Linked DNA regions of Homo sapiens: all the other regions are reported to be linked to region 4. The links are microRNA targets in miRTarBase. Many come from high-throughput screens and were not tested one by one. Region 4 holds a microRNA gene; each other region holds the end of a gene's coding sequence.
Evidence for each region. The annotated mature microRNA hsa-miR-650 reads AGGAGGCAGCGCUCUCAGGAC and lies in region 4 at 3,408-3,428, opposite strand. An mRNA with a match to its seed (bases 2 to 7 or 8) in the 3' UTR can be bound and repressed. Matches are read on the target gene's strand: a 7mer-m8 pairs with bases 2 to 8, a 7mer-A1 pairs with bases 2 to 7 and ends in A, and an 8mer does both.

Region 1: miRTarBase lists GPR156 as a target of hsa-miR-650. Seed matches in the 3' UTR shown: 7mer-A1 at 3,828-3,834.
Region 2: the mRNA of CPNE5 is a reported target of hsa-miR-650. Seed matches in the 3' UTR shown: 7mer-m8 at 2,110-2,116.
Region 3: the mRNA of TG is a reported target of hsa-miR-650. The part of its 3' UTR that is shown has no 7-base or 8-base seed match.
Region 5: miRTarBase lists MTHFD2 as a target of hsa-miR-650. Seed matches in the 3' UTR shown: 7mer-m8 at 3,142-3,148.

What each region holds. Positions count from the first base shown.
Region 1 is chr3:120,161,899-120,167,929 of GRCh38, forward strand. It overlaps GPR156 (G protein-coupled receptor 156), which reads right to left. Exons shown (of 10, transcript NM_153002.3): 10 at 3,580-6,031. The coding sequence ends at 5,134. The region is part of intron 1 of LOC105374065 (a long non-coding RNA gene); the gene reads left to right. Among named protein-coding and RNA genes, the nearest start is that of GSK3B-DT, 70 kb to the left of the region's middle.
Region 2 is chr6:36,737,270-36,743,474 of GRCh38, reverse strand. It overlaps CPNE5 (copine 5), which reads left to right. Exons shown (of 21, transcript NM_020939.2): 21 at 989-2,700. The coding sequence ends at 1,207. It also overlaps the pseudogene GPR166P. Among named protein-coding and RNA genes, the nearest start is that of RAB44, 43 kb to the right of the region's middle.
Region 3 is chr8:133,133,466-133,139,670 of GRCh38, reverse strand. TG (thyroglobulin) reads right to left here. Exons shown (of 48, transcript NM_003235.5): 47 at 6,011-6,201; 48 at 4,772-4,995. The coding sequence ends at 4,877. Among named protein-coding and RNA genes, the nearest start is that of SLA, 34 kb to the right of the region's middle.
Region 4 is chr22:22,820,014-22,826,218 of GRCh38, reverse strand. It overlaps MIR650 (microRNA 650), which reads right to left and starts at 3,443; the gene lies at 3,348-3,443. It overlaps LOC105372948 (a long non-coding RNA gene), which reads left to right. Exons shown (of 4, transcript XR_938047.2): 4 at 4,583-5,238. It also overlaps IGL and IGLV2-8.
Region 5 is chr2:74,213,721-74,219,919 of GRCh38, forward strand. It overlaps MTHFD2 (methylenetetrahydrofolate dehydrogenase (NADP+ dependent) 2, methenyltetrahydrofolate cyclohydrolase), which reads left to right. Exons shown (of 8, transcript NM_006636.4): 8 at 359-3,845. The coding sequence ends at 522. SLC4A5 (solute carrier family 4 member 5) reads right to left here. Exons shown (of 31, transcript NM_133478.3): 31 at 2,522-5,072. Among named protein-coding and RNA genes, the nearest start is that of MTHFD2, 18 kb to the left of the region's middle.

The DNA.
Region 1 (6,031 bases), not on the chromosome of region 4:
AGAACTGGCGTCAGTACATTTATTTATGTGAGAGGCAATTGCCACAAACTGTCCACATAGGATGCCTTTTGTTCTTTGATTGGCTTGCTCCTTCACCACATCTCTCTTCTCATCTCTCTGTTGTTTGGACTTCTTCTTCTTCCTCTTCTCTTCTCTTCTTCTTCTTCCTCTTCTCTTCTTCTTCCTCTTCCTCTTTCTCTTCCTCTTTCTTGTTGAGTTGAAGTTTCACTGGGTCACCCAGGCTGGATTGCGGTGTCACAATCATAACTCACTGCAGTCTCAACCTCCCAGGCTCAAGAGATCCTCCTGCCTCAGCCTCCCGAGTAGCTGGGACCACAGGCATGAGCCACCACACACAGCTGATTTTTTATTTTTTGTAGAGACAGGTTCTCACTCTGTTACCCAGGCTCGTCTTGGACTCCTGGGCTCAAGCAATCCTCCTGCCTTGTCCTTCCAAGGCATTGGGATTACAGGCGTGAGCCATGGGACCGTGCCTGAACTTCTTATCCATCTTCCCTTTTTTTCTCCTAGCCTTTTGCTTTCTTCTTAGTCACCCACAGACCTTTCCAGGGTGTCTCCCAGGCACTTATTCTCTGAGCCTAATGTTTCTTGGGAAACCTTGACACAGACCTTTTCAAGTTCACAACAGGTTTTGATTTGTGACATTGGCATTTCCTGTCTTCTTGTGACTTAAGTGGTGAACAAAACATCTCAAGATGTTCTCTTATTCAAATGTGGTTTGATTGGGGAATGCTAAGGTCAAGAATGTTTCAAGGAGCAAGACATCAGAGTGGGTGCCAGGGATAGGGAAAGCAAACTCTGAGGGCAAAGTGATAAGCTCTCTCCTGCTTTCAGCCTCCTAAACACCACTGTCTGCATTAAACCCTCCCTCTTGGGAGGCCGAGGCAGGCAGATCACGATGTCATGAGTTCAAGACCAGTGTGGCCAACATGGTGAAACCGCGTCTCTATTAAAAATACAAAAATCAGCCAGGTGTAGTGGCAGGTGCCTGTAATCCCAGCTACTTGGGAGGCTGAGGCAGGAGAATTGCTTGAACCCAGAAGGTGCAGGTTGCAGTGAGCTGAGACCACGCCACTGCACTCCAGCCAAGGCAACAGAATGAGACTCCATCTCAAAAAATAAAAATAAATAAATAAATAAATAAATAAACAAACAAACCCTTCCTTAACAGAGCCCAGATTGTGTTACTGGGAAAAGTGCAGTGGCCGGAGGGAATAGAGAAACTGTTTTGTTTGGAGTTCTGAGAAAGGGGACTCAGGAAGCTGTTGGTGATAGAGACAAACAGGTCTTTCTTCTGCTAATACTGCTTGTTACTCATTAACAAGCCTGCAAAGAAAACGTCTTTAAGACAAGAACTTTATCAAGAACTTTGCGCTTCTCTTCCATAAACTTCATTGCCCTGTTCCCCAACCCCCCAACAAACTTAAAGTACTGTCATTTTCAGAATTCAGTGACTCCTGGGTCTGCAGGTGATGTAGTTTCATGCTGTTAACTCACCGGAAGGCAGTGGAACCAGATGCGTGTTTTTCCTCCTGCTCCTCCGCTCTGGCCCCAAAACAGAAACTTTGCCTTCCTTTGTTTCACCCATTTATCTACCCAGAAATCCACCCATCTAGCATTTGTTGGGTGTATACTTTGTGCAAAGATCTGTAATGGCTACTCTAGAGGAGAAAAACGATGGAGAAGACATGCTCAATGCTTTCAGGAGCTTGGAATCTGTGGAGGAGACACATGTAAAGATAATACGATAAACACAGATACAGAAGAGATTTTATAGAACTTGCATTGACTTTTCTCTTTTCCTCTTTCAAAGTGATATCATTCTTTAAAAACAGGCCTCCTGCCTCTGATGCTTTTTTTCTCCTCTATGAACTCTAGGAAGGCCAAGTTGAACCTTTAAGGAAAGAGGGTTTGTGGCAGACCAGGACAGGGAAAGACATTGGGATCAGGATGGAATCCAAATGTTGAAATTCCAAGATTTTCAACAGCAGAGGACATATGCTGGGGTTAGAATCAGGCCTGGCTCCATGCTATGCCTTAGGACCAACAGAGACATGTATAGCTCAGATGACAGCAGCAGAGGCAATGTTTACTTCTCCAGGATTCCTTTGCACAATTTACTGCCCTTTCTTCAAGAGCAGAACAACCAAGAGCATGCCAAAAGTCATGGCACATTCAGCCCTTTAAGGATTTCATCACTGGATTAGCTGATCTTAGGTAAAAATTTAGGAAAGGAGGTGGGGAAGGGTAGGGGTGATGCACAGAGTAAATGATACATTTGGTGGCAACATTTTGTTGAGCACAGTTATGGTGTTTGCACATTGCTTTTGAACAAAATGATAAATTTCAATCAGGTCTGGCAAGCGTTACAAAGTCATTCTAGGTCAAATGGATAACAGAAGCCTCTATATAGTTGAGTCCAAAATACAGACCCTAAGACAGCCTTCCTTCTCTTTTTTCTCTTTCTTCTTTCTTTCTTCTCGAAACGGAGTCTTGCTCTGTCACCCAGGCTTGAGTGCAGTGGCACCATCTAGGCTTAGTACAACCTCTGTCTCCCGGTTCAAGCAATTTTCCTGCCTCAGGCTCCTGAGTAGCTGGGATTACAGGCATGTGCCACCCACGCCCGGCTAATTTTTGTATTTTTAGTAGAGACGGGGTTTCACCATGTTGGCCAGGCTGGTCTTGAAATCCTGACCTCGTCATCCGGCCGCCTCGGCCTCCCGAAGTGCTGGGATTACAGACGTGAGCCACTGCTTCCAGCCCATCCTTCCTTATTTAACTAGGGAATCAATCAGCTTTCTTTGGGGATGGCTGGGAAAGGTTGAAGAAAGAATGTATGCTCCACCTGAGCCTTGAAGGATGAATAATTCACAAGGGCACAAAGTGGGAAAAAAAATTCTAAACAGAAGGATGGAGATGTAGAAGGGCGGGGATGGTGGGACTAAGGTTCTAGAAGCAGACAGAGTGAGAAGGCTAGAAGGATTGCCAGATTTAGAGTCCACATGAATGAATGGTGGGCTGCTAGTGGTGGCATGCTGGGAGGAAGGGAGCTGCAGGAGGGGGAGCCCAGCCACAGGACCCCCAGGGGCAGGAAGAGTCCAGGGTCTCCAGGGTTTCCTATGTCCATTGAGGGAGTGTTTCTGGGATAAGAGGCTTCTTAGGGAGAACACAGAAGAATCTGTTCAAATGGAACTTTGGTAGAAGGTACACTGGGACCCAGGGTAGCCCGGCAGCAGCTCTGATGGCTTCTCTGGTTCCCCTTCTTTGGGTGGGTCAGCCTTCTCCGGGCCCCTCCTGGCCAGCCCCAGATTACAGTTTCTGAAAAGACTCCTCTCGGGAGTCATTTCTCTTTTATTATGGTACCACTTGGACAGCACACACACAGCACAAGAAACTGCAAACCCATGCACAGAATAAATTAGGAAATTCCTGTTTAAAAGTAGATGATAGAAGAAGCTGTGCTTCCAGGAGGGCCTCATGGTTCAGTGCCTGGAGAGTCCAGGGGTGTCAGCAGCCCCCAAGATTCCATGATAAATTGATGATACATTTAGAGCCAAATGCCCCCCTCTGAGAATATTTAATAAGGCCTGAATTCCTTCATGCAAACATGTGCACACCCACAGATGTATACACAGGACTCGGGGCAGGGGACAGCCTGGACATGACAGCCAGCTCAGCAATAAGCACAGTGGACCCAGGTGTGCTCTCCCTGTGGCTCTGGTGGTGGCTGAGTTCCTCGCACTCATCCTTCACCAGCTCCCCAGCTCCCTTGGGAGGTGCCAGTGTGGCCTTTGGCAGTGAGGAAGTGGAGGCCCGTTTCCTGAGGTGAGGACCCAGGTCTATTATTCTGGACTATAGGGGAGCACATCCCAGCTTTCTTACATGAGCCTTGCTTTGTTGTCTCGTCTGCCAAGCGTCACCTGCCATTCCCAGAAGAACACATGAAGCCATGTGTCCCTGGGAAAACCCACCTACTTGAGTCCCAGGAGCTGTGTGTACATCTCTGTCCAGCAGTGTGATGTTGCGGGAAACTACCTCATTTCTCTAAGCCTCATAATCCTTGTCTGTAAAAATGAAAGTGTCTACTTCACAGGGTTATCAAAAGGAATCACAAAAATATGATATTGCCAAGTACTATGCTGGACTCAAGTGAAATATTCAAATCCTGTTTTCTTTCCTGTTTTCGTGTCCCTCGTGTCTTCCTTTTTATTTCTCCATTTGGCTTCCAGGTTTATGTGTCTGTTGGTAGTCATGTAACCCCAATGGAACCAAAAGCACTCTTGACCAACAGGTTCTCCCATACCCCAACAGAAATTGCTGGTGTGTGCCTCCCCGCAGTACAAAACTGCATCAGTGGGTGAATCGAGGATGAGCCACAGGACAAGGGGACAGTGGGGACAGTCAGGACCTCAGGTACATCCGATCCCAGGGGAGAGATCTGGGAAGCCTGCGGGCGCATGGAGATCTGTCTCAGAGAGGAGGGTAAAGTGCCATAATGGTGGAAAGACACCATCAAGAAATAGTGGTGTAGGGGTGGCTCTGAGCTGGGTCTGGCCAGAAGCTGGAATCTAGGGAGGTGCTGTTCACAACATTCAGCAGAAATAAAACCACTGCCTTCCAGGAGTGGGAGGCCCAAGGATGTAGGAGACTTATCTTCCTGGTAGGTCTGTCCACCAAAAGGCCAGTTTGATGGGTCACAGTCCACACCTCAAGTTCTACAGAAATTTCCCATGCATCTCTCCATCTGTCTGTCCATTCAGCCATCCATCTGAATATATTAAGAGTTTTACAGAATGTAGGCTGACCTGGACAGAAAATCCTATGTGTTCATTCAGCACCTTTTATCCAAGGAGTCAGTGTCTTTCATAGTCACTCAACTGGAGTCTTTTATAGTAAGGCTGCGAGGTAGTAACAGGACAGGCAATGCCTCTCTTTTTATAGATCAAGAAGTACTCAAAGTAACACAGTGAGCCTAGCTGAAACATGGTATGGGCTGGTCAAATGCAGGGCACTAATCTGTTCCCCAAAGACCAGAAATTGGCTCTTCTCCTGTGGGCCTTGGTACAGCTTCTCTTGGACTGACCTCTGTGTCTAGACCAGCTCTGTTGCTTTTCACACCAGCGTGGGTTTCAAGTCATCTTTGAAGTTCACAATAGGCTTGGAGCGGGCCCACAGCTTTTCCCAGGAAGCCAGCCCCCCAGTAGGCTCAGGGTCAGTGTCTGATGTGCCACTGTCACTAGAGTCAGAAGAGCTCTGGAAGCAGATTTCACAGTAGGGCCGGTGGCAGCGGCAGAAGAACTCATCTGAGCTGCTGGACTCAGTATCAAAATAGCTGTGTTGAGAAGACAGGGAGGCACAGCCTGAGGGCACTGGGGGCCACAGCTGCCACTGTTCAGGCAAGTCAGGTGAGGCTTTGGAGAGGCATGGGGCAGCAGGACTTGGGGCCCGGCCAGAACCAGAAGGCTGGCGAAGAAAGGCTGCTTTGCTCCCTCTAGCCCCCTCGGGCTCTGTCTGGCTTTGTTTGCTGCCCTCCAGGGTACCTGGTCTGTCTTGAGGATCTGAAGGTAGTGAAGGCTTCCTGGAAGAAGGTCTTCGTACTCTGGAATCAGTAGTTTGTGGGGCCAGGCTGGGGCTGTCCCCATTCTGCACATGTAGCCTGCTGTGTGCCCCAGGAACAGTCCTGTTTGCCCGATGCCCCACAGATGAGGGTGCAGAGCCAGGAAAGTGTGAGCGGGCCCGCTGAGCTGCCCGCCTTCTCCTCACCATGTAAGGGCTAAAGCCGAGCTCCTTGGAGAGGGGCATCTTTTGGGGGCTGAAGGCAGCACTGTTCTTCCAGGTTTGCTGATGACAAGAGGGGGCGGTGGAGAGGGAAGCCTCAGGGCCCAGGCCCAGATCTTGTAAGACCTCCTGAAGTTTCTCCCTGATTACTGAACTAACCCGTGACCGCCGCTCTGGGGGCTCCTCTGAGTTCTCCAGATGCCTCTGTCTCTGGGGATCTGAGCCGCCTCTT
Region 2 (6,205 bases), not on the chromosome of region 4:
CTCCTAACATTGCGGGTGCCCAGCCAGAGGCCAGAACCCTCTGCCAGCCCTTCCTCAGCCTCCAGGCCTCTGTGGTCAGCCTCGTTCTGGTTTTTTTCTGCCCCTTGAAGGCTGAGGCAGTGTCTTTAGTGTTGCTGCAGCCTTCTCCAAGAATAGGCATTGCTCGGTTAACTGAATCAATGTAAGCATCTCCATGAACGGTGCAAATATAATGAGCAGAAAGACCTTTGTCCTCAGGGAATTCCCATGCAGTCTCACGTGGAAGAATGCACCCTCCGCAAGCACTTCCCCCACTCATCCCCTGCAGAGGAGGCCCTAGTGCTTAGGAGATGCAGAAGACAAAGCTGACATCCTGCATACCCCCTTGGTTTAAAAATTGGGGCCCAGTATCCCAGGTGTGGAGACCAAACATAGGGGGCTGGAAACCAGAGCAAGACAACCTGGGAGGTGGGACCGGCCCATGCTAAGGCCTGGAGGCAGGAGTGAGCCAGAAGAGGCGCTCAGGATGGAGGGCACCCCCGGGAAGAAGCCAGATGGGCCTGGCATTAGGCATTGGCCAGATTAGCCCCAGAGAGAAAAGGAACGAAGAGAGGCCAGAGAGAGAGGGCTCTGCTGGACAGGTCGGGGGAAACCCAGGAGGGCACGTGCCCCAGAAGTCAGGGATTCAGTTGGCATTTCGGAAGCACCTACTCAGAGCCTGTGCTTAGTGCCGAGGTGGAGAAATCGTGTTCAGTGGTGTGTCCTGGTGTGGAATAGGGCTCAGTTTTTGTCGAGTGAATGAAAGAATAGTGACTATGACTATAGTTACTGACTGCCCAAACCCAGGGAGTTGAGGGATACAGTCCCTCAGGTAATTCAGAAAGGTGGGGGGATTGAGTCAAGTGAGCAGAGGCTGGGAGGGGGGTGGGGATGCAACCCCAGGCCTGGAGATTTTGGGGGCCAGGGTCCCACAGGAGGCACTGCCTGACCCTGCCCTCCCACTTGCCAGTTTGTACCCTTCCGGGACTACGTGGACCGCACAGGCAACCACGTGCTGAGCATGGCCCGCCTGGCCCGAGACGTGCTGGCAGAGATCCCTGACCAACTGGTGTCCTACATGAAGGCACAGGGCATTCGCCCGCGTCCCCCACCCGCAGCACCAACCCACTCGCCCTCGCAGTCCCCAGCCCGCACGCCCCCTGCGTCCCCCCTGCACACGCACATCTGAACCTGGTCTCAGCAGGCAGGTGGCTGGGGCCTGGGAGAGGCCAGGTGAATGGGAGGCCAGGGCCCCAGACTCCCCGAAGTTGGCCTGCCCGGCCTTTGGGACATCTGTGTGCCTGGGAGGCTGCCAGGGGGTGGGGCTTCTGAAGACCCCTCCTCAATTTCTTGGCCTCACTTATTGCCCAAACCCAGGGAGTTAGGGGGGTACGGGTGAAAGAGGGGTACACAGGGACCCAGCCCTTCTCTTCTTCCCCAATACCTGGCTCTAACCCAGCCAGGAAGGTGTAAACAATAAGGGTGATTGGGGTCCCTGTCGCCCACCCCCGGCAATCCTATTTGCTTACCTGTCACCCTGAAGCCTGGGCTTGGCCTCCTCCAGCCCCCCATCTCCGTCCCATCCTCCCATGGTGTCTACTCCTGTCCCTGAGCCCCGCCCTGTGGTCTATCCTGTGCCCGATTTCCAGTGAACCCCATGAAGCTGATGGGTTTGCAGGAAGGCCTGAACATGTGCACCCTCCCAGGGACACTGGATGCGCTGGGAGCCCCGGGGACCCCATGGGGTGCTGTAATCATGGACCGTAGGCCATGTGATGGGCCTGAAGTGGAGGCTGCTCAGCACAGAGCCCTTTCTGGTGCCTCTCGAACTCAGTACGATGCAAGTTCTAGACACACAGATGGCCTGTGGAGGCCTCTCCCTGGTGTGGGCCCACAGGTACTTCCATGGTTGACTCCTGGCTTCAGGAATCCCTTCCTCCCTCCAGAGGCTTCCCAGGGCCCTCGGTGCCCACGCCTCTGCCCATCTGGAGGCCTGAGTAAGGAGTGGCTCAGCCCCACGTTCCCACACTGCTCCTGCTCTTTGCCCTGTATCCCATGAGGCTAGGAGACAGGAGTCCTGGGTTTGAGCCCTGCCTCCCCCCACTGCCTAATGTGGGAACCCAAGCAAGGCCCTTCTACCTTTTGGGCCTCAGTTTCCATGTCTGTACCACAAGAGGGTTGACCAGATGGCCCCAGGTTTTCCTTTAGGTCTGACATCCTGAGGGTCATTCATCCCATGCCCAGTTCCCCCCATCCTACTCCTAACAGATGTGACCCTACTTGAGGCCGCCTTGGCTTTTGGGTCACCCTGTCTCATCCCATCACCCCAAACATACCCTAGTCCTTCAGCCTGGGGCTCTGGCATCTGAGCCCGAGCTCCTGCCCCTGCTGTGGGAAAGGTGGGGAAGAAGGGGATCTCCCTCCCGGGCCCACCCAGCTGCCCAGCCTTTGCCCACTCGGGGAGCAGATCATGCATGCCAATCCCTGTTGCCGCATGGAGCTCCTCAGCCCACTGACCTCTCCGTGCCTGGTGCAGGCCAGGCCCCCGTCTTCCGCCTGCCTCTGCTTCCCCGTCATGCATGGTGGTGGTGTTTCTACGGTGTCTGGTTCTGTGCCCGTCTCTGAGACAGTCTCTGTGTGGAATTTGCCTTAAACTGAAGTAAATTTGGTTCTTTTAGTAAAGCACGAAGTTTTTCTTTCTTCTCTGAAAAATAGCACTGACGTTGCTGCTTGACAGGGTCCAGTTCTCCTCTGTGGCTTCCTTCAATTGTTTGCTTCAGTGAGATTTACAATCAAAGGCCACGTGCCACGCTCTGTGCTAGGCATTGAGGATGCAGCCATGAACAAAGCACAGACCCTGTCCCTGCACAGGGCTTACAACACACACACAGATAATATGGGAGAGACCCAGCAAACACATCAACAAATAGGCTAGTAACATCATTTCAGGTGGTAGCAAGAGTTCTAAAGACACATGAGGGAGAAGGAGGGTGATGTTTTCGATGAGGTGGTCAGAGAGGGCCTCTCAGAGGAGGTCATGGTTGAGGTGAGCCCCCAGGAAGTAAGACAGGGAGCCACGCTGATATCTGGGGAAGGGAGCTCTAAGTAGAGGGACCAGCAGGCGCAAAGGCCCTGTGGTAGGAGCTTCCTTGGTGCATTTGCAGGAGAGCGAGGCCAGTGTGGCTGGAGCTGAGTGCAGGAAGGGAAAGTGCTAGAGATGGGGTCGGAGAGGTGAAGAGGCCAGAATGCACAGGCCGCATAGGCCATGATGAGGCCTTTGGCATTTACTGAGTGAAACGGGAAGCCATTGAGGAGGTGAGAGAAGTGAGTAACATCATCAGAATTTCCTCTAAAATAAACGGATTGCTTTATTGCATTTGATCACTCATTCACTCATCTCTCAACAAGTATTTACCAAACATGAGTGCCAGGCCCCACTCACGTATTGGAGACCATGCTGGAGATGCACACACAGAATTGCACCCTCAGGGGTGCCCCTGCTCTGGGGCAGTGAGCGAGGAAATACTACAACCATGGGGTACTGATGCCAAGCCATCAGGAGGGGCTGGGTAATCTGTGGGCACCAGAGTCACTGTGCCATGAGGAGGAGTCTGGCATCCCCTGTGCAATGGGGTCGTCACCACCACCCCCATCCTTGCAGGGTCATCGTGTGGCCAGAGTGACGAGTACATAAGGTTGCATGTGACATATGTGACATGCGCCCAGGACCCATGGCATTTTAGGTGCCCAAGAAACACTGTTTTCCTCTTGTTCCTCTTCACATATAAATCCCTGTGGCCATCAGGGACCAGGATCATAGCAAAAGGGGATTTCTCCCTTCTCTGGGCAAGTTTGTTCCCAGATTAGCCCTCCAGGCAGCCATTCCCACCCTGAACATCACAAGAAATTTGGAACTAATTATACCAAAGTTTGGGACTTGTTTACTTCTTATGATTTTATAGTAAATGGGTGCTGATTCACGGCTGTCCCTATAATTACATGCCCCTGTGACTTACATTCTGATATGCTTTGAGTGGGAACAGGGTGGGGTCACAGCTTGGAAGGAGGGAAGTTCCCATAACCAGCAGCTCATGTCACCTCACCACAGGGGCCGTGGGAAAGTGTCAGGAGAGGGTGCTTGCCTGGCAGGGGGACTGAGGCACAGAGCCACTGCCGGGGGCGGGACGGGACACCAAGAGCATCTTTGCTGTGCCCAACACCGTAGCATCTTGTGGATTCTTTCCCAAGGTGTGTTCCACAGAATACTGGCTCTCTGGCATGGAGTTTGGGAACCTGCCTGCTGTGCGTCCCTCTCGAGAGTCTCAGTGGCCTTTTGGGTATTCAAGGCTCTGGTAAGTCCTACAGCAAAGGGACCAGTATGATTTGGTTCAACCCAACGTTTCTCAAGCTTTGTATCACAGAGTCAGTGTGTGTATGTGTGTTTTGCTGGTAACACCGTCACCAAGCAGAACGTGCTGTCTTGGGAATTTCAGTAGAGACAATCTCCCGGGTTTCCAGGCCAACATGGAAGCCTGAAGCCTGCCCTGAGCAGGCCAGAGGGAGGGCACTGAGGGTGGGAAAAATGGAAACCTCAAATTGGGCTCTGGAGAGAAGAAAAGGGCTCTGAAAGGGATCCCTGCCCCAGGTGCTTCAGGAAGAGAAGCCACAGGGAAGAAAGGAGGGCTTCAGACATTCACAGTCCCGGAGTCATGGCTGCATGGTTGACTGGATTTTTGTCCCCCTATTGGACTGAGGGGTGTGTGGAACAGAGCTGGAGGGGTGGGCAGAGAGGGGAAAGGCTGTCCTGCCTCTGAGCTCACCCCCCAGGCTGTGGCTGGCCCTCTGCTCCCCCTACTCAATCTCCTGGCCTTCAGGATTAAGGACCCTAGGCTGTTACCCCCCAGATCATTCTCCACCCACTTCTCTGCCTTTGGAAGCCCCTCTGTCCTCCTCTTGTCCACTCACCTCAAATACCCCTGAATTAATACAAATAAAATAATAATAGTAGCAATGACCAGCACGCATATGCACTTACTAAGCATCCTTCTAAGCACTTTACATGTGTTTAGCAAATTCATCTTCATAACAACCCTGTGAAGAAGGTATGTACTGTCATCATCCCATTTTCCAGATGAGAACACTGAGACACAGAGGCTCAAGATCACACAATTAGAGAGCAGTGGAGCCTACAGAGATCTGAGCCTGAAAGTGGAGTGGGAGGATCCATCTGGTTACCTAGAGATGTGAGCTCTAGCTGAGCCATTTAGTTGCTTTGTGACCTTGTTTGGGCCATCTGCCCTCTGGGTCTCAGTCTCTCCACTGGTAAAATAGAGGGGATGGGCTGTCAGGTCCCTAAGGGTCTTCCCATCTCCCTTGAATCTCAGCGCATCCATCAGCCTATACTCTTAGACCCCCGCCAGGCCCCACAGGCCTCCTGAGGCCCTGTCACGGCCAGGCTGGACAGTCGCCACCACTGAGGCTGCCACTCCCACACCTCTGGGATGCCTGGCCATCATCGGCCTGCAGAAGAGGTCCCTGAGTCCTGCCTGGAAGGGGCGGGAGAGGTAGAAGCAGAGGATAGGGCTGACAGCGCAATTGGAGTAGGCCAGGATGGTGCAGAGGCTGGAGGCCACAAAAGCAGCCGGTGTGGCAGGCAGGTAGCCCATGGCTGCCACATAACCCAGCATGGAGCAGGGCCCCCACATCAGCACAAAAACCACCAGCACCACAAGGCTGAGCCCTATGTTCTCTTAATGCTCCTGGATGCTCTCTCCCATGGGACCTTGGGGCTGGGTCCACAGGAGCCAGCCCACGTGGCTGAAAGAGCAGCCCAGCCCCAGCGTGCATGGCAGGAAGGCCAGGGCTCCCAGCAGGCTGATGTAGCAGGAGGTCCCAGCAGGGCTCAGGAGCAAGAGGCAGGCCTGGGTCTTGGGAGCCCCCGCTGTCTCCTCCTCCACTGCCACCCTCTGGAACAGCCAGTTGGGCAGGGATTCTGTAAGGCCCAGGGCCCACATGGCCCCACAGAGCAGCAAGAGGGTGCCCCAGCCGGCTGGGAAGGCCAGGTCAGGCCGGGCCACAGCCACATGGCGCAGGAGAGCTGTGGCCACCATGCTATAGAAGATGCAGAACGTGGTGGCTGTGTTGGTGGCCTGGCTAATGGTGCAGATGGCAGGGCCCAGCCACCAGT
Region 3 (6,205 bases), not on the chromosome of region 4:
CTCGATGCGAGGTGATGTCTCATTCACCTCTTGACTTTTGGTTGACCCTAAGCTTGATGTGGGTGTACTGTGACCTTCCTGTCCTTTAAAGATGGAGAAAAGAGATTATGACACCTTTACAGTTGCCCTGATGTACACTCATGTTTGCCCATTGCAGTTGGGAATGGGTTATGCAATCCCATGTGACTTCAAGAGGAATCTCTGCAACACATGAAAGATGCAGTGGGAGTCCAGAGCCCAGAGTTCTGGAAGCCAGGTCTGAGAGGGCTGACCGTGGGGCCTGGGGCATTACCTTCCCCTACTTGTCTTAATAGGAACTCTGATCTCCTGCAGCTCACACACCCTAGCTATTGTAGATTGTCTCTTCCGCTGCAGGTTTCTGAAGGTAGTTCCAGGGTAGGACTGTGATCGCCTGGCCTCTGGGTCCCTCCTATTTCCCATCTTTACCTTTCTCATGCATTGGCACATAGCAAGTGCCTCAAATCCATGGTTAACTTCAAGATCTTTGTGAACAGCACTTTGCTGTTTTCTGTTCACATATATTCACACCCTTAGTCACCAGGGTGAATCTGCAAAGTAGGCGTTATTATTATAACAGGATGTTAAAATGGGGTGTTTTCAAAGGCTGAGAACAAAATAGCAGGCGTCATCCGGTGGTGCTAGACCATACGTGCAGGGCTTGCAAAGGGGCGGTCAAAAACCAGTTCGCCAACATTAGCTCATCACTAAACTCTAATGTGAAGGAATATGAACAATTTGTTTTCAGGGCCAATGCTGGTTAATTTAAGGGGTGTTTGTATTATACCAGAGTAGACTTTTTATTATCAGAAAAATCATGAGCTAGGTATATGAGGTTTGGTCCAAGGGCAGGATAAAATATACATCTGCACAGGTATAGTGATGCACTAGTTTTCTATGGCTGCTACAACAAATTTTCACAAATTTATGGGCTTAAAACAACACAAATATACTGTCTTACCATTCTGTTGGTCACAAATTCAACATGAATCTCAAATGGGTGAAAATTAAGATGTCCACAGGGTGCAATCCTTTCTGGAGCCTCTAAGGATGAATAATTTTCCTTTCCTTTTCCACCTTCTAGAGGACACCTATATTCCTAGCTTCATGGTCTCCTCTCTCTATTCCAAAGCCAGCAACATCAGGCCAAATTCTTCTCATGCTGCCATCTCTCTGGTCCTCTTTTCTCCCTCCCTCTTCTACTTTTAAGGACCCTGTGATTACATCAGCATCATCTGTGTAATTCCAGATATTTTAAAGTCAGTTGATTAGCAACCTTAACTCTATCTGCAACTTTAATTTCCTCTAGTCTTAGTTATCCCATCTACCACAAATGGAGAAGGGTGGGAAAGAAACAACATTGCTTCCAGCTTGCACCTTGCTAAGCATTGCTCACCCAATGTAATTGAATCTATTCTACAGGTGAGGAAACTGCAGATCAGGGAGATTAGGAGTGGTGTCCGCTCTTGACTATGCATTGCAATCCCTTAATGCCTGGCCCCATCCTCCAGGGATTCTGATCTAATTGGTCTGGGATATGGTCTGGGCATTGGGAGTTTGTGAAAGTTCCCAGGTGATTCCAATGAACGGTCAAGGATGGAAACCACTGGGCCAAGGAATTACTCCAATTCATCCAAACACCTGGACAAACATGGTACTACAGCCCAGCCTACCTCACTTCAAAGTCCCACTAAGGGGCTGGTGGAGGAGAAACCTCCTACCCTTTTGCTGGAGGGAATTTTCACTTTAACTAAAAACAGACTGTGATTAAAACCAAAGGAACAGAACTTCAGGGGTAGAATATCAAGCACTGAATTCCTGATGGCAACACAAGAACAAGCTTTCCTTTCAGAAAGAAAAATGAGACAGTGTTCAGAGGACAGAACCTCATATAGGGCATGAGACCTTGATAAATGACATTGCTTTTATTTTATTTCTATCATTATTAGGGCCAGACTATAGAGAGGGCTATGCCAGAAGGACCTTCTAGATACCTGAAGCCTCATTCCAAAACCCACAGAGGCCCCTTCCTCTTCCTCCTCTTAGAGAGTCTGATTTGAGGGCTTTCCCATAGCACTGCATCAGCCCAGCCCCCGCCCCTCCTGGACATGCTGTCCAGTCCCCAAGCCCTGGGTCCCATAGTGGTTTACATTGTGACCCCTCCAAAAGACACATCTAAGTCCTAACCCTCAGTGCCTGTTGATGTGAACTTGTTTAGAATTAGGGTCTTTGCACATGTAATTAAATTAGGGATCATGGGATAAGATCATTTTGGATTTAGGGTGGCCCAAATCCAATGACTGGTGTCCTTCTAAGAGAAAAGAGAGGGAAGTTTGATGCACAGAGAAGAAGGCCAGTGAGGACAGAGGAAGGGATCAGAAGGCAGTAATGAGCTAAGAAACACACTGGCCACCAGCAGCCACTGGAAGGTGGGAGAGAGGCCTGGGCTGGATCCTCCTTCAGAGTCTTGGAGTGGGAACGGCCCCAGTAACACCTCAATCCAGGGCCTCTGGTGTCCAGAACTATGAAATAATACATTTCTGTCGTTTCAAGCCACTCAGTTTGTGAAAATTTTGACAGTAGCCACAGACAACTGATAGAGGTCTCATCCATCCCCCAGTCTGGATACCGCAGGAGACCCAAACACAGTGAGAATGCAGAGCACTACCTCCTGGAGCCATGTCTCCTGCCCCTGTCTGAGCCCCCAGATCCTGGAGCCTTACCCTGGATTAAGGGTACACCAAGGAAGCACCAGGGCCATGACTCCTGATTCTGGGAACTCGAGAGCACCTCCAAATACAGCACATGATTTTCAACCCACACTGCACTAAAGGAGTAAAAAGGTGCTTGAGGCCAACTCCAACCCGGGGCCATGCCAGGAGAGACCCAAGGATGGGGAAATGGCCCCAACTGTCATAGTCTTGGGGGCATCCATTGTCTACCCAATAACTGTCTCCTCATTCATTGCTGCTAAATGCACCCCAGCTTTGTTGGGACAGCAATATGTCCTACTCTGGAGGATAAGTCATGCCTGGTATAATTGGATCACAGAAGGCCCTTTCATCCCTCATTGCCAGTGATGGTTTAAAAGGGAGCATATGGTCAGGCGCGGTGGCTCACACCTGTAATCTCAGCACTTTGAGGCGGGATCACTTGAGGGCAGGACTTTGAGACCAGTCTGACCCACATGGTGAAACTCCGTCTCTACTAAAAATACAAAAAAAAAAAATTAGCTTAGCCAGGCATGGTCGTACATGCTTGTAATCCCAGCTACTTGGGATTCCTTGAAGCCGGAGAATCCTTGAACCCGGGAGGCAGAGGTTGTGGTGAGTCAAGATTGTGCCATTGCACTCCAGCCTGGGCGACAAGAGTGAAACTCCATCAAAAAAAAAAAAAAAAAAAAAAAAAGGAGCACATGACTTAGTTCTAGCCAAAAAGATGTAAGGGGAATTCTGCTGAGAACCTCTGGGAAAAAACTTTTCCTCCAAAAAAAGAAAGAAGCACTGGAGGGGAAAGCCCTTTAGCTCCTTCCCCATTTGCCTCCAGCATGAGATGCTGTTGGGGATTATGTGTGATGTCTGGAGCTGTGGCAGCCATAATATGTCAGTGAATTGAAACACCATTCATGCGCTGAAGATGGCAAAGAGGATGGTTGGAAAGAGTCTGGGTCCTTAATGACATCACTGAGACACTGACCAACCCTGGGACCATCTACCTATCGAGTTTCCTTTGGTTAAGGCCTTTTAGTTCAGTATTTAAGTGCTTTCGCTGAACCATCCTAACAGAGCCTATAATGCAGGTTGGAGGCTAGTCAGGGCTTTCAGTGCTATCAGTAGGTTTTGTAGGACACACAACGTGACCCTAGGCCTATATTTTATAGTCCATACAGTGCATGGAAACAGAGAAATGGGAAAACCTGAGTTGGACTCTGATTCTCCTCCTCTTCACCATGTGAATTCAGGTATAGTGTAAGTCTTTCTGAGCCTCACCTTCCACATTTGCAAGATAGGACAAAAATCTCAGCCTACAAATCATCACTAATTTACTCTGAACTCAAATAACATGATGGGTATGAATGCATTTGATGGCATGCCATCTAAGTGAACAAGACTGTTAACCAGCTCCACTTGCTTTTACTTTGGGTGAAGTGTGTGTCCATGTGTGTGTGAAAGGGGGTGGAGAGACAGAACGTTTTAACCAGAATATTTGCCTTAAACGTGTGTCCCTTAGGAGGGTGAACATTGCTTATCCGGGAATCCAAATCATCCCAAAGTTGGGGCAATTCTATCACCTTGCACCAACCCCCTCTCACATTTAATCAAGTTCCATCAGTTCTACTTCCTCCAGGGCCTGTGGCTCTGTTTCTTGCCCCAGCTCCATCCTCATTGTCTTGCTTCAGAGTGCATTGCTTCTCACTGGACCATTGCACCCATTCCAGTTGGTCTTCTACCTCCACTCTGGAACCTTTGTGAGTGAGTCTTTTCTACCACTCAGGTGGGACTATGCCACCTGGGGCCTGCTCTTGATGGATCCCCATTTTTTGTGTCACTGTTTGCCCAGCATTCTCTCCTTCTGGAGGAGCAAAGTCCTTGTTTCTCCAGCACCCAGCACAGGGCCTGGTGCATAACAGATGCTCATAAACATTTGTTGAATGGAAACAGCAGCCTGGGATTCAAACCTTAGAAAGATTATTAAGATATAGTTGGTGTTACCAACGAATTGCCTTGGATTCACACATTAGAGTCAACAATGCTTCACCGCATGTAGATACTTTATTGAAGGTAAGTGGCTATTTTAGAGAAAAAGATGACCATAGTGGGCAGCCTCGGGTGAGGTTTTTGGGGAGCTCAAGGGCTGGTCACTTGCTGTAGGTCTTAGAGCCTGGTTCCTGGAGGCTTAGGAGATCTTCTCTTAGCCCAGATCCAGCCGTCAACTCCTCCTCTTCACTCTCTGCTGACTGCCCGCCCTTGGCTCCATCTGAAACAGAGGGGCAAGGAAGGTTGGTCCAAGCCAGATTAGGACTTCTCTTCTCTGGTCCCTTCCTTTTGTCCCAAAGAGACCCCAGCCTCCAGTGGACATTTCTTGCTAATGCCCTTTAGAGGGAATTTTCCACTGGCTGAGGTGCCAGATGGGTCTCCTGGCTATAGGGACATGCTAAGGGTACAATGGTACTTGGATTTGTTGTCAGCAGACAGACACTCAGCCTTGGAAGCTAAAAGCAGAGTTGAAAATCTAAACTATAGCTGGACAAGATCCCTTCCCTGTTTAACGGACTACTCCCATTTCTCTGTATCTGAAAAACTCCTGTCATTCTAAAAACCACAGCCCAGCATCACCTCTCCTGGGGACCCTTCCTAGAGCCTCCAGGGAGGAGTGAGTCCTCCTTCCTCTGGGCTCCTGCTCACTCAGACACAGGCTTCCATCATGGCTCCAGGAAAGCTGAGGGCCATCCCCTGGGTTGTGTCACTCACACCCGTTATTCCAAAGCTTCCTAAGGGCATTGTGTTTACTCTCTATTCCCAGTGCCTTCATTATAATTTCTTTTCTCTCCTTAACACCTCTGCAACAGGAAGAGGTAGAAATGCCCACTTTTCCCCTGGCTAGAGTTACCTCTCCAAGATTTTCTATCTAGGACTTCAAGGACTGTGAGGATGAGGTTCAAGACACTCCCTTCTCTTCCCATACCAACGTTCTAGGCTGGAAGCCCTGATGTTGGTTCAGCATTCTACCCCCCATAGACCTTCTCTCCTAGTCACCCCACTGCCCTCTTCCTGTGCCTCTCTTTCTTTTCCTTCCAGCCCTACATCAGAACAGGAGGCCCTTGGCAACATGGAGCTCCCCAGACCATGAACAACTCACAGGAAGGGGCTGTGCCATTGGCACTGGTGACCCCTTGGCTCCAATGCGCGCGCAGCACAGGTCTCATGCAGCGAGCACAGCAGATGCTGAGATCAACACCCAGCTCCCTCCACTTGTCCCAGGGCTTTGCTACCTGCAGATGTCTTCAGAGACGAGATGTACTTGGACCAGAAGGAGCAGTCGGCTTTCTTCAGGCCCTGTCGATTGGGGAGCAGCTCACTGAACTCCTTGTAGTTCTCTCCACCAGCACGGGGTACAAAGTCAGGCCAGGGGGTTGCAAATGTGGGTACTTTCCGTGAGAACTCATAAGGGTAGTTGGGATTTCTGG
Region 4 (6,205 bases):
TAAACTACTAATTCCAATTTTAGCATTGACAATCAACATTTTGATGTGCAAATAAAGAAATCTCTCAATAGTTATGAAAAAAAGCAGTTGTTTCCTACTTAATGTTACAGTTCCTTTCTGGGTAAGGGTGTTTGACAGTGGAAAAGAAGGGTGTTCAATGAGATGTTTCCTTATGTCTAAGAAAAAAGGGAAAAAAATTTCATTTAGAGAAAATGATAATTTCCAGCATAAGACATTATGACTATCAAGTTCCTGTTCTGTTCCTGGCAATTTGTTGTAGGGCCTTAACAGCTTAAAATCTCAAGCTTCCATATTTCATTGCTACATTCTGAGTTTTAAAATCTACATGCTTTATGTAAATTTGCAACACATTTAAACCTTAAACTTCATTTATTTATTTATAATCCCCAGAACTTCAAAGATCATGCATGTTTTTGGTTTCAGCTACAATGCTGATTTTATGATGTTTTTCTCTGAGCCTGTACTGGTTTATTCCAGAGTTGGTGCAAGCTTCCCTGACCATTTGCTGCTCCCGGTACCTCTGATTTTCCACCTAGGGTCAGTCTATTTCTGATATACTAAAGCTTTCTGAAAACTCAGAGCAAATGGATGAGATGAAAAACATGAGACTGTGACACAGGGCTGTCCTGGGAAGACCCAAGATCCAATTAAATAGATGATACAAGTATGTTCTTATCCAAAAGCCTCAGGCCACTATAGGAGGTAAAATACAGTATCCTTCAAATAGAGATCTCCACCTAGAACATATGCGGTGGAATTCTCAAACTTCAAATTACCCTACAAATCAGGGACCGTTAAACCACATCCTGTGGGCCATCCCTGTCCTGCCACCTGTTTTTCCATGGCCCCAGAGCTGAGAGTGGTTTTTATAGGTTTAAATGGTTACACTATAAATGGTGCTAAAAATACCTACAGAATATCCTCAAAGTTGACTCTTGGGAACCACAGACCAAAATCCTTCTTATCTGGACATTTAAGAAAATGTTTACCAAATTATAAAAATAAATAGCACTGAAGTATTAGAGAAAATGCTCAACTTCAAGCAGAACAGGAGAAATCAAAACTAAAAAAAGATAACATTTTTAAATCTGCTAGGTTGAAAAACATTTAAACTTTCCCCAGTGTACTCTGTTCGAATATTTATGGCTGACATTGCGAATTTGTAGATAACCCCTCTAGAGGAGAATCTGAGGACAGTGAGTGAAAATTACAAGCACACATCCTTTTGACTCAGCAATTTGACTTCTAGAAATTTATTCTATGGTCATGTCTACATATAAAATCAAAGGAGTCTACATAAGGATGTTCGCTGCAGTGTTATTTATAAGATCAAAATAGTGATAATAACCATTAAAAGTGAGTTGGCTAAAATTCTACCATAGAATACTCTACAACCTTTGAATGAATGGGGCAGTGCTCTATGCCTAGGATGTCTCAGCAAAGAATAAAAAATAGTGCATGCATGGGATGGTCTTTTACATGGAGGACAAGGACAGGGGCCTTCACTCCACTCTCTCCTTTATCCTTGAGATGATCTACATCTGCCAAAGAGGTTAGGAACTGCGGAAGTCTCCCAGCCAGAGGGAGGCTTCCACAGCCAGAGGGAGGCTTCCACAGCCAGAGGGAGGCTTCCACAGTTCCTAACCTCTTTGGCAGATGTAGCCTGAATGCAGCCTGGCCTGACAGCTTGGCTGCAACCTCGTGATTAACCAGGAGCGAGAATGACCAAACTAAGCTACTCCCAATTCTAGGTGCATCCAAGTCACAAGGTCACAGACATGTGTTCTCTTAGTGTGCTAAGTTTTGTGAGTGTTTTTTTATGCATCAATAGACAATACACTTTGGTTTTTGAAATAAATTTTAGTGTTTATATTTCAGGTACACAACATGATGTTATATAGTAGTTACTTTGTAAATATATATAGTAAACTAGTTACTTTGTTTTAAATATAATCTGTATAATCGAAGTTTAAGGAGCCTAAACTATATATGATAATAGCTGTATTTAACAACTGGCTCAGAAAATTTAAATATTGGACCCAGCTAATGTCCGAATGTGTTCTAAATCAATTCTCACCATTAGATTATTAGGGATTCCAGGTACAAAAGTATTGACAGCCATGAAAATTAGAAATGCTCGATGTCCATGAGGAAGGGAGGTGGACTCAGGTTAACTCTTTCCTGTGGAGCCATTTTGGAATCCCCCATCCTATGGGAAGACCGTCCACTTGTGAGGAGTTTCCAGGACAGGGCCTCAGCGATGTGAGGGGAGGAGAATTCTGCGAGAGCACTGAGCCTGTCACTCAAAATCTCCCCAGCTCAGCAACCTGAGGAATTTCGGCAAAGAGCAGGAGCAATAAAAAGAAAAACAGCAGCATCCTCTTTGTTCTTAATCCCTCAAAAACATCTTCAAGTCTTCTTAAAGTGGTCACTTTAAGCTAGGAGGGCCATCTTCATTAGAGCGTGGTGGACACAGAGTGGAACAAGATGCAATTCCTGGAAACTGGAAGCCATCCCCCTGATGGCTTCTGTCCAGATTGATCTGCATAGTGTGACAGATGGGGGATGCATTTAGAATGAGGATGTTCCTGAAAACAGGAGGGACTGCACCAAGCAGTAAACTCCTTGTCCCTACGTCCCTGCATTGAAGAGCTAGGAATAGTTGCACGTTAAGGGACCAGAGCACACAAGCAAAAGGAAGTTGCCACAGTCCTGAACGAGAAATCACGAGCAGGTTTCCTTTTAGACCTCATGGTGGGAAAGGAGAGGAGCTGAGAGAGGAGAATTGTCAAGGCCATCCTGCAGGAAACCCTTATACAGCGTGAGGAAGCATCTGCAGAGCAAGAAGGGGGCCTGAGAGCCCAGGGCAGGTTTTGATCTTACTTCCTCATTGACTTAAAACACTGTGGAAATTGTTGCTGCCTGCATATGAGCTGCAGTAATAATCAGCCTCATCCTCAGCCTGGAGCCCAGAGACGGTCAGGGAGGCCGTGTTGCCAGACTTGGAGCCAGAGAAGCGATCAGGGACCCCTGAGGGCCGCTTACTGACCTCATAAATCATGAGTTTGGGGGCTTTGCCTGGGTGCTGTTGGTACCAGGAGACATAGTTATAACCACCAACGTCACTGCTGGTTCCAGTGCAGGAGATGGTGACTGACTGTCCAGGAGACCCGGACGCGGAGGGAGGCTGAGTCAGGGCAGACTGGGCCCAGGACCCTGGAAAGGGAGAAACACAGTCTAGTGAGTCAGTGCTGGGCCCAGGTGAGCCTGAGGAGCAGGAGACCAAGGATCAGCCCAGAGGTCCCTGTGGCCCCTTCCCTGGAGGCATCACCTGTGCCCTGAGTGAGGAGGGTGAGGAGGAGCAGAGCCCAGGCCATGGTGGTGACGTCCTGAGAGCGCTGCCTCCTGAGACCCCAGCACTGGGCCTGCCCCCAGCCCTGTCTTATCCCCTCTGCCTCAGAGAAGGGCGGGACCTCCATGCAAATCTGCATCCTGAGCTCCTCTTCTCACCCCACCCTCACTTGGGCCTGGGCTTAGAGACTTCTGCTTCCCTTGACAGCGGGGCTCAGCCAAGGAGACTAAAGTCCCTGATTGTCTATTCTGATGACAGGAAGTTGATTTCTTTGCACGTGATTTGCTCAGGAGAGAAAAATCTGCTGAAGCCCCTCACCTGAGTGAGCTCTTGGCCCTCAGTGTCTCTGCTGTGTGGTGCCTGTGTCTCTGTGACCCTCCAGGCCTGGGCACACCTCGAAGTAACCTCTTTCTGGCACTCATTGCCAGGTTCTCTCTATTCTCAGGAAATGGGGCTGCCCAACCCCACTGGAAGCCTCTGCTGGGTGGCGTTGGTCCCTGGTCTGCCCAGCGGCAGCCTCGTCCCATCCCCACTCCCATGCTTTGTCCTGAAGCATCTGCACCATCAAATCCCTGGAGCACATCAGCCACCCCAGGCAGTGCACCCACATCCACACGGGCACATGTGGGTGGGACCCTGTGAAGGGAACAAGGAGCACCAACCAGGGCCACAGTCCTGAGCCTGAGTCCGCTGCTCCCAATCCTGCCCCTCCCACTCATGAGCAGGTGACTTGTCCTTCCCAGCCTCTGGTTCTCAGCCTGATAAATGGAGACCACAGAGTCCGTTCTGCATACAGGTGATCCATGGGGATATGAGCCAGCAGGGAAAAGGGAAAGTTTGCTAACAGGCCTTTCTATGTGCACCAGAGTGATGTTATCTTGAAAGGTTTATTGAAAGATTTACTTCCATTTTACTGTGATTTATGTGTCAGGTCACAGAGATGCACGTTTCCGGCTTTCTTACTTTCCCCCATCTGAGCACATCCTCAGGACAACCTAAAGCTGACCTCTCTCAACCCTTCGACACTGAAGACACACAGACATTCAATAAAGACATTTTTAGTTTTTCCTCCAAATGCGTTTAATCTTTCTTCATCTTTCCCCATTGCCTATGATGCAACTCTTTTAATGTTCCATATTAAAATAACTATTAAGGGATTCAGGTTCTATTTAAATATTGTAACATACACTATCCTGTCTTCCCATCTAGATTGAGCTATAAAACCATGACAAGTGCATGGAGCAGCTATTTGAGCACCAGGAAAGGAAATGGTACGCAGCAGTTTGGGATGGCCCCAGCAGATGAAATACAACAGAGTCAGTGTGAGACTGCTGGATTTCCTCACTGTCCCCTGGCTGGGACTCCAGACAGCCCCAAACCTGAAGGGGCACAAACCTGAAAACAAAAAGAAGTCCAGAAAGCCCTCTTGTTCAGGATCGAACTTGGGAAAGAAAACTTATTTGGCTCAAAGTGAAGGCTCAGTCCCCTGCACAAGCAGGTGGTTCACACCTGTGTTCTCATCTCTCTTATACCAGCGCCTCTCCCTGGGTTCACACTGATGTCCTATGGATGGAGACGGGGCTTCCTGCACCAGGTCACTCCACAGCCCCTGTAACCTGAAGCCCTGCAGACCAGCCTTGTTCAATCACAATGTGATGTGAGCCTCATGGGAATCCCACTGTCTAGTCATCATGTTATAAATACAAAGAGAAGAAGTCAATGAGTTTAAATAATGTATTTTATTTACCTAGCATATCAAAAAGAGTATCATTTTCATATATAATCTAAGTACAATTATTTATGATATATATCATATACTTTGCATGGCTATTGTTATTATTTTTTGAAGAATCTTTATGTGGAGATTGTGTGGCTGATGGAGATGTGAATGGGTTTCCTGTTGACAAGGGTGGGTTGTGGTGGCTTTTTAAGTGTCAACTTTGATAGGCTGGAGGAGGGGTGGAAAGAATGATTTTTTACACAGGATGTGGAGGGTGGAGGTAGGCAGTGTCCATACTTAAGCTCACCCTGTGGGTGCATCTGTGGTCCCTGCATGGGGTAAGGCTGCTCCTCCTGCCCCAGGTTTCCCTGCAGGGAGATCTGACTCCAACTCTCCCTTAGACCCCAGAGCACCTGGCGAGTCAGGCTCCCTTCTCATTCCATGCAAATGCAAGAAACACTCAGATCTCATTGGGCGTGTGGATACTCACAGTGCTAATTTAGGAATAAACAGGTGCTTTCCAGCATACAGTGGCCTCCTGAAGTCCCACATGGCCCATGTTGGGGATGGCTGGTGATCTTAATTGGGTTCCCTGGAAGCAGACTCTGAGATGAGGAATTGCATGCACAGAGGATGTGAAAGGAGGTGAGGGAGGCAACCCTGGGCAGGAGACCCTGACCCTCATTGAGGTCTCAAGTCTTTCCTACAGAGAGCTGTGGAGCTGGGAGGATTTTCAGGTCTTCCTATATTGAGGCAGAGTCGAGAACTCGGCCTCAGGCAGTCATGAAATCTAACCTCACTGAGAAAGGGCATAGACCTGGAGGAGTCTGTTTTCTGCACCGAACAGCACTTTACAGTGAGGACACAGCTCTGACCTGCCAGAAGCTCCCAGTAGTGCTTAGTGGGTAAGCTCAGAACAGGGGATCTGGGCAGATCCCACAGTGTCTACTCCATTGGTGTTTCTCTAAAGAATGACAGGCTACCACAGGAGCCTGAGCTGGGCAGTTCTGGGGACTGATCTAGGACATTTGGGGCAAGGACTGGCCTGTCACCACCTATGGAAATCCAGAGACAACTGTGGATGTCTACCTCAGTCTGATCTTCCATGCAGG
Region 5 (6,199 bases), not on the chromosome of region 4:
TGCTTTCTGCTTTGGACAAATTATACTTAAAATTAAATTAAGAAAATGCTATAGGCAGGTATTGAGGTAATGCTTATTATTGTTATACTTACAACTCCCACACAGTTAACCTACTAGATATTTCTTTAATAGATTTCTTTATAGGTTACTTAGATGTATAAATATTCCTTGAACAACTCTGTATGTGCATGTTATTTTACTAGTGTGTTCACAAAACCTTGAATGATGTAGATGTGATTTTTGAGTTTTATGCTTATGTATGTTACTTTTTCCTTGCATGCTTGTTTAATAATATATTAAAGTACACACATGTCCTTTGCCATAACTAAAGCAGCCTGCCTGTCTTGTTTCTATGTAGGAGTCAGACAAAAAGCTGGGTATATCACTCCAGTTCCTGGAGGTGTTGGCCCCATGACAGTGGCAATGCTAATGAAGAATACCATTATTGCTGCAAAAAAGGTGCTGAGGCTTGAAGAGCGAGAAGTGCTGAAGTCTAAAGAGCTTGGGGTAGCCACTAATTAACTACTGTGTCTTCTGTGTCACAAACAGCACTCCAGGCCAGCTCAAGAAGCAAAGCAGGCCAATAGAAATGCAATATTTTTAATTTATTCTACTGAAATGGTTTAAAATGATGCCTTGTATTTATTGAAAGCTTAAATGGGTGGGTGTTTCTGCACATACCTCTGCAGTACCTCACCAGGGAGCATTCCAGTATCATGCAGGGTCCTGTGATCTAGCCAGGAGCAGCCATTAACCTAGTGATTAATATGGGAGACATTACCATATGGAGGATGGATGCTTCACTTTGTCAAGCACCTCAGTTACACATTCGCCTTTTCTAGGATTGCATTTCCCAAGTGCTATTGCAATAACAGTTGATACTCATTTTAGGTACCAAACCTTTTGAGTTCAACTGATCAAACCAAAGGAAAAGTGTTGCTAGAGAAAATTAGGGAAAAGGTGAAAAAGAAAAAATGGTAGTAATTGAGCAGAAAAAAATTAATTTATATATGTATTGATTGGCAACCAGATTTATCTAAGTAGAACTGAATTGGCTAGGAAAAAAGAAAAACTGCATGTTAATCATTTTCCTAAGCTGTCCTTTTGAGGCTTAGTCAGTTTATTGGGAAAATGTTTAGGATTATTCCTTGCTATTAGTACTCATTTTATGTATGTTACCCTTCAGTAAGTTCTCCCCATTTTAGTTTTCTAGGACTGAAAGGATTCTTTTCTACATTATACATGTGTGTTGTCATATTTGGCTTTTGCTATATACTTTAACTTCATTGTTAAATTTTTGTATTGTATAGTTTCTTTGGTGTATCTTAAAACCTATTTTTGAAAAACAAACTTGGCTTGATAATCATTTGGGCAGCTTGGGTAAGTACGCAACTTACTTTTCCACCAAAGAACTGTCAGCAGCTGCCTGCTTTTCTGTGATGTATGTATCCTGTTGACTTTTCCAGAAATTTTTTAAGAGTTTGAGTTACTATTGAATTTAATCAGACTTTCTGATTAAAGGGTTTTCTTTCTTTTTTAATAAAACACATCTGTCTGGTATGGTATGAATTTCTGAAATTCTGTCTTCCTATGACTCCTAGTTGTGACCTAACCAGTTTTTTTCTCATTTAATCAATGTAGCTATTCCTATATTCAGTAACACTTACTTCTATAGCCTTAAATAGATAATTTTTTTTCTTCTATTTTTTTTTTTTTTTTTGTAGAGATGGGGTCTTGCTATGTTGCCTGGGCTGGTATTGAACTCCTGGCCTCAAGCAATCAATCCTCTTGCCTCAGCTTCCCAGAGGGCTGGGATTACAGGCCTGGGCCACCCACACCCAAACAGAGGTTTAAAGAGCTTTGGAGAAACCAGCCTCGTCCTCCAGTCTCTTTGTTTGTTTGTTTTGAGACTGAGTCTTGCTCTGTTGCCCAGGCTGGAGTGCAGTGGCATGATCTCGGGTCACTGCAACCTCTGCCTCTCGGGTTCAAACAATTCTTGTGCCTCAGCCTCCTGAGTAGCTGGGATTACAGGTGCATGCCACCATGCCTGGCTAATTTTTGTGTTTTTAGTAGAGATGGGGTTTCATCACATTGGCCAGGCTGGTCTCAAACTCCTGACCTCAAGTGATCCACCTGCCTCGGCCTCCCAAAATGCTAGGATTACAGGCGTGAGCCACTGCACCTGGCCTGTCCTACAGTCTTATATCACAACAGGTTGTGCCAAGCTAGGAGCTTAATCTGTAAAATACTTGAGGCAGGGATAGGTTTGTCTGTTTTGGCTTTTGGCTTTCATGCGAGCAGAAGTAGCTCCTGCTCTAGGCAGCTTGAGGCAGAAAGAGAAGAAACAATTGAGTTGACCTACCTCCGTCCTCGTTCTTCTGCCAGCTGGCGTTATTCTTTTGATAGTTCTCTGGAGTTTAAAGAAGTTTAGATAGTTTGCTGGAGATGTTTTTGTAAGTGACGTATAGCTTATGTCTCTAATCCATGCCTGCTTACCTAGATTATTAAATGTGGAGCAAGATGACCAGACAGGATTAAATTTTATTGAATTACAGTTACAAGTGGAAAAAATGACTGACTTACTGCATGGAGAAGTATTATGTCAACCTGTTAAAAGCTATGGAAATTAAAATGTTCATGTATATACAAAATATAAATGACATGTAAGGTAAAATTACAGTGATCAATTTACAACAAAGAAATTAACAGTAGTTTTCCAGCTTGTTTGATTAATCAAGCAGGTTTACTCTTGAATCCATAGCATTTCTACAATTTAATTTGGACAAAGTTCTATTCCAGATCAGCCAGGTTTTAAAACTGAAATGTGTTAAGGGTGGATTGTTAGCTTCCCCAGGATTGGTGTGGATGATAAATACTTTTTTTAAAAATTAATTATTATTGTTTATAAGACATGGATTCCAGCTGTCTCCCTGGCTGGAGTGCAGTGGCATGATTATAGCTCACTGCAGCCTTGAACTCCTGGACTTAAACGATCCTCCTGCATCAGCCTCTGAAATGGCTGGGACTACAGGTGTGTGCCAGCATGCCTAGCTAATTTTTAAACATTTGTTTAGAGATGGGTCTCACTATGTTGCCCAGGCTGGTCTTGACCTCCTGACCTCTGCTGATTCCCCCCACCTCTGCCTCCCAAGTAGCGGGATTACAGGTGTGAGCCACTGTGTCTGACAAGAATTTATACTTAAGCATAGGAGATGGTTCTGGAAATTCTAAGAAATTCTGCTCTCAGTAAGAGTAGAGGTTTGGAGCTTTACCTCTTGGCAGTATCCCTTGGAAGGGAGCTCTGAGATTAAATGTAATCAAACACTTATTGAGAGCTTTCTATGGACCAGGCACTACACTAGACGCTGGGAATTACAGAGGCAATTACCTGTCCTATACTCAAGGTGTTAATGATCTAGTGTCATTTTTCTTTAAAAAAGAAAGCACCTGCATTTGTCATCTTGAGCAAATATAGTAACTCTAACCTCAAGGTTCAAGTGATTTACTCAAGGTTTAAATCATAGTTGTTTTGGAGAAAGTAAGTGTCAGATGCACTGTGGCTGTCAGGGTCATAGTAGGCATTAAATCAACATGGTTGGTGTTCATTAAATGTGGATTGAAGATAAAATGACTGATCTTAAGTTTCATGAGGAATAGGTTTGCTTCATTGAAACTGGTTTTTATCTTCCCAAATAGTTTTCAATCATTCCTTTAAAGTACTAGGTTGATTAATATTGCAAAGTTGTAATGTAAAATGTGACCTTACCTCTGTCTAACCTGTATTGTTCACATGAATGGGAGTTTGACTTTGGGAATAAACATTGAAAATTTGCAGGGAGGACCCACCCAAATGTATCATGAAATGTGATTCCAGGTATGAAAAACCAGTGATACTAATTTAAAGGATCATTTTGATTTAACATGTGGTTTCAAATTTCACTTTAACAAGAACTATTTTATTTTAGAAACATTTATCCACTCAGATGCATTGGTTCTTTCATTAACAGAGTTTTGGAACTGGCTTTTCAATCTGGGAAAGCCCCAGTCACACTTCTGGAGCAAGGCCCATAATGCAGATGGTTCAAACTTTTTTTTTGTTTGGATACGGAGTCTCACTCTGTTGCCTAGGCTGGAGTGCAGTGGTGCCATCTCAGCTCACTGCAACTTCTGCCTCCTGGGTTCAAGCGATTCTCCTGCCTCAGCCTCCCGAATAGCTGGGACTACAGGTGCATGCCACCACACCCGGCTAATTTTTTGTAGTTTAGTAGAGACGGGGTTTCACCGTGTTGCCTAGGCTGGTCTCGAACTCCTGAGCTCAGGCAATTCACCTGCCTCGGCCTCCCAAAGTGCTAGGATTACAGGCGTGTGCCACTGTGCCCGGCTGGTTCAAACTTTTCATATAACCCTTAGGAAATTGGATGTGACAGGGAGAAAAGATAGGACCTTTTCAGCATTTCTTAATATGCAGAATTGCCAAATATTCCAAAGATGGTCTAGTGACATAAAAGTATATTACAAGTTTGTTTGAGAACATCTATATTTAAATCTAACCTTTAAACAATTTTAAATTGATATTTGTTTTAAATATGAATTGACTATTGCCCCTTTATCTTAGCTATGGTTTGGGGAAACAAGCATTTTTTTATTTCCAAAGAAATGTTAGAATTTCTATGCTGAACTGCATTTTAAAATAAAATATAATATTTAGCTTTAGGTATTTTAATTACTACAAAGGGGAGAGCTTTGCATCTAAGCAATACTTTTCATCAATAGATCTCCAGTTTTCTATAGGCAGACGGACTCCCTCTGTTTGATAAAGAAGGAAACAGGCACAGAGAAGTTAAGACCCTCCCAGTGAAGACTAAGCCAGGCTCTCCATCTCCCATCTGGGAGAAGCTGCTTCATCCTAGAGGGTGGTCTCACTGTCAGTTTCTCTTCGGTATTTATCCATGTCTGTGAAGTCATAGTCTGACTCCATCTCTATCTTCACCTGTGGCACCATGAACACTGGGTTCCGTGAGTAGCTGAAAGCAGGTGAAGCTGGACAGGATATTTTGAAGTGCAAGGTGATGCTGAACGAGAAGTAGGAAAGAAGGATTACGTAGTTCTTGGTGTTTTGAACCCATCCCCTAGAGCAGGGCTCTAATGCAAATACTTCCATCTTTGCTTCTGAACTCTCAGCACATGCCAGAATGAGCAGTTTCCTATTGGCTTGGCCTTCAGCCATAGTCACGCATCTGGTCTCACCCTGTAAACCTATCTTCACATTGCTGCCAAGGTGAACTTTTGAAATCACAAATTTGGTGATTCCTCATTGGGTTCAAAGAATCTAAGCTCCTTAGTGTGAGAAGACAGGAGTGTCTTGTCTTCTCACAAACACAAACACAGTCTTCTGTGTTTGTAGTCCTGCCTGCTTAGTTTGCCCCATCCATTGCAGTGTTCTTTGCTCTTTGGAGGTGTGTGTGTGTGTGTGTGTGTGTGTGTGTGTGTGTGTGTGTGTTTGTGTGTGTTTTCAAATGGTACTTCGGGCCTGTGTCCACTGCCTGAAATGCCTTTTCTTTTCTCTGCCCCGCTCTATGTCTGGCAGATTCCAGTTTCCCTTTCTTAGATTCTCAAAACGAGGCTACTCCCTCCCTGTGTACTCCGATATTCTTGCACAGGGTGCTCTGTCTTTGTTTGCATGCCTTTCTTTCCACATCCTCAGGGATTAAGCATCGCACCTGGTAGATCATTGATGCTTAGTCTTTGTTAAACCAGATCATGTTGCAGAGCCTTTCACTGAAACAGAATCTTGCTATTTAGTGATCTTTGCCTCCATCTGTTTTCATAAATTCAGTAAAACACCAATGAGGTTGGGAGATACCATCTCCAGTTACCAAAGTTTCTTCATTTCTGACCCTGTCTTAGGGCCTTGTGTAATTTAACAGGGTTTTGGAAACCCCTAACCTGGTCCAAATTTTCTCTCTACTGCCTGAAATTGGGAGTAGTCAGTCAATTTCATGTAGATTATTTTATAAATGAAAATAAGATAGACTGCTTTTCTCATAATACCGGTGTATACTAATGTATAAAGATCAATGGCATCACATATATAGGAGCCTGACTGGGGAAGTGGGATGAGAAGGAAGGTGGAGATTAACTGGGACAGGTGACACTTTGGGCTAGAGCATCTTTGGGACTGCTGCTTAGGGAGGGTTGA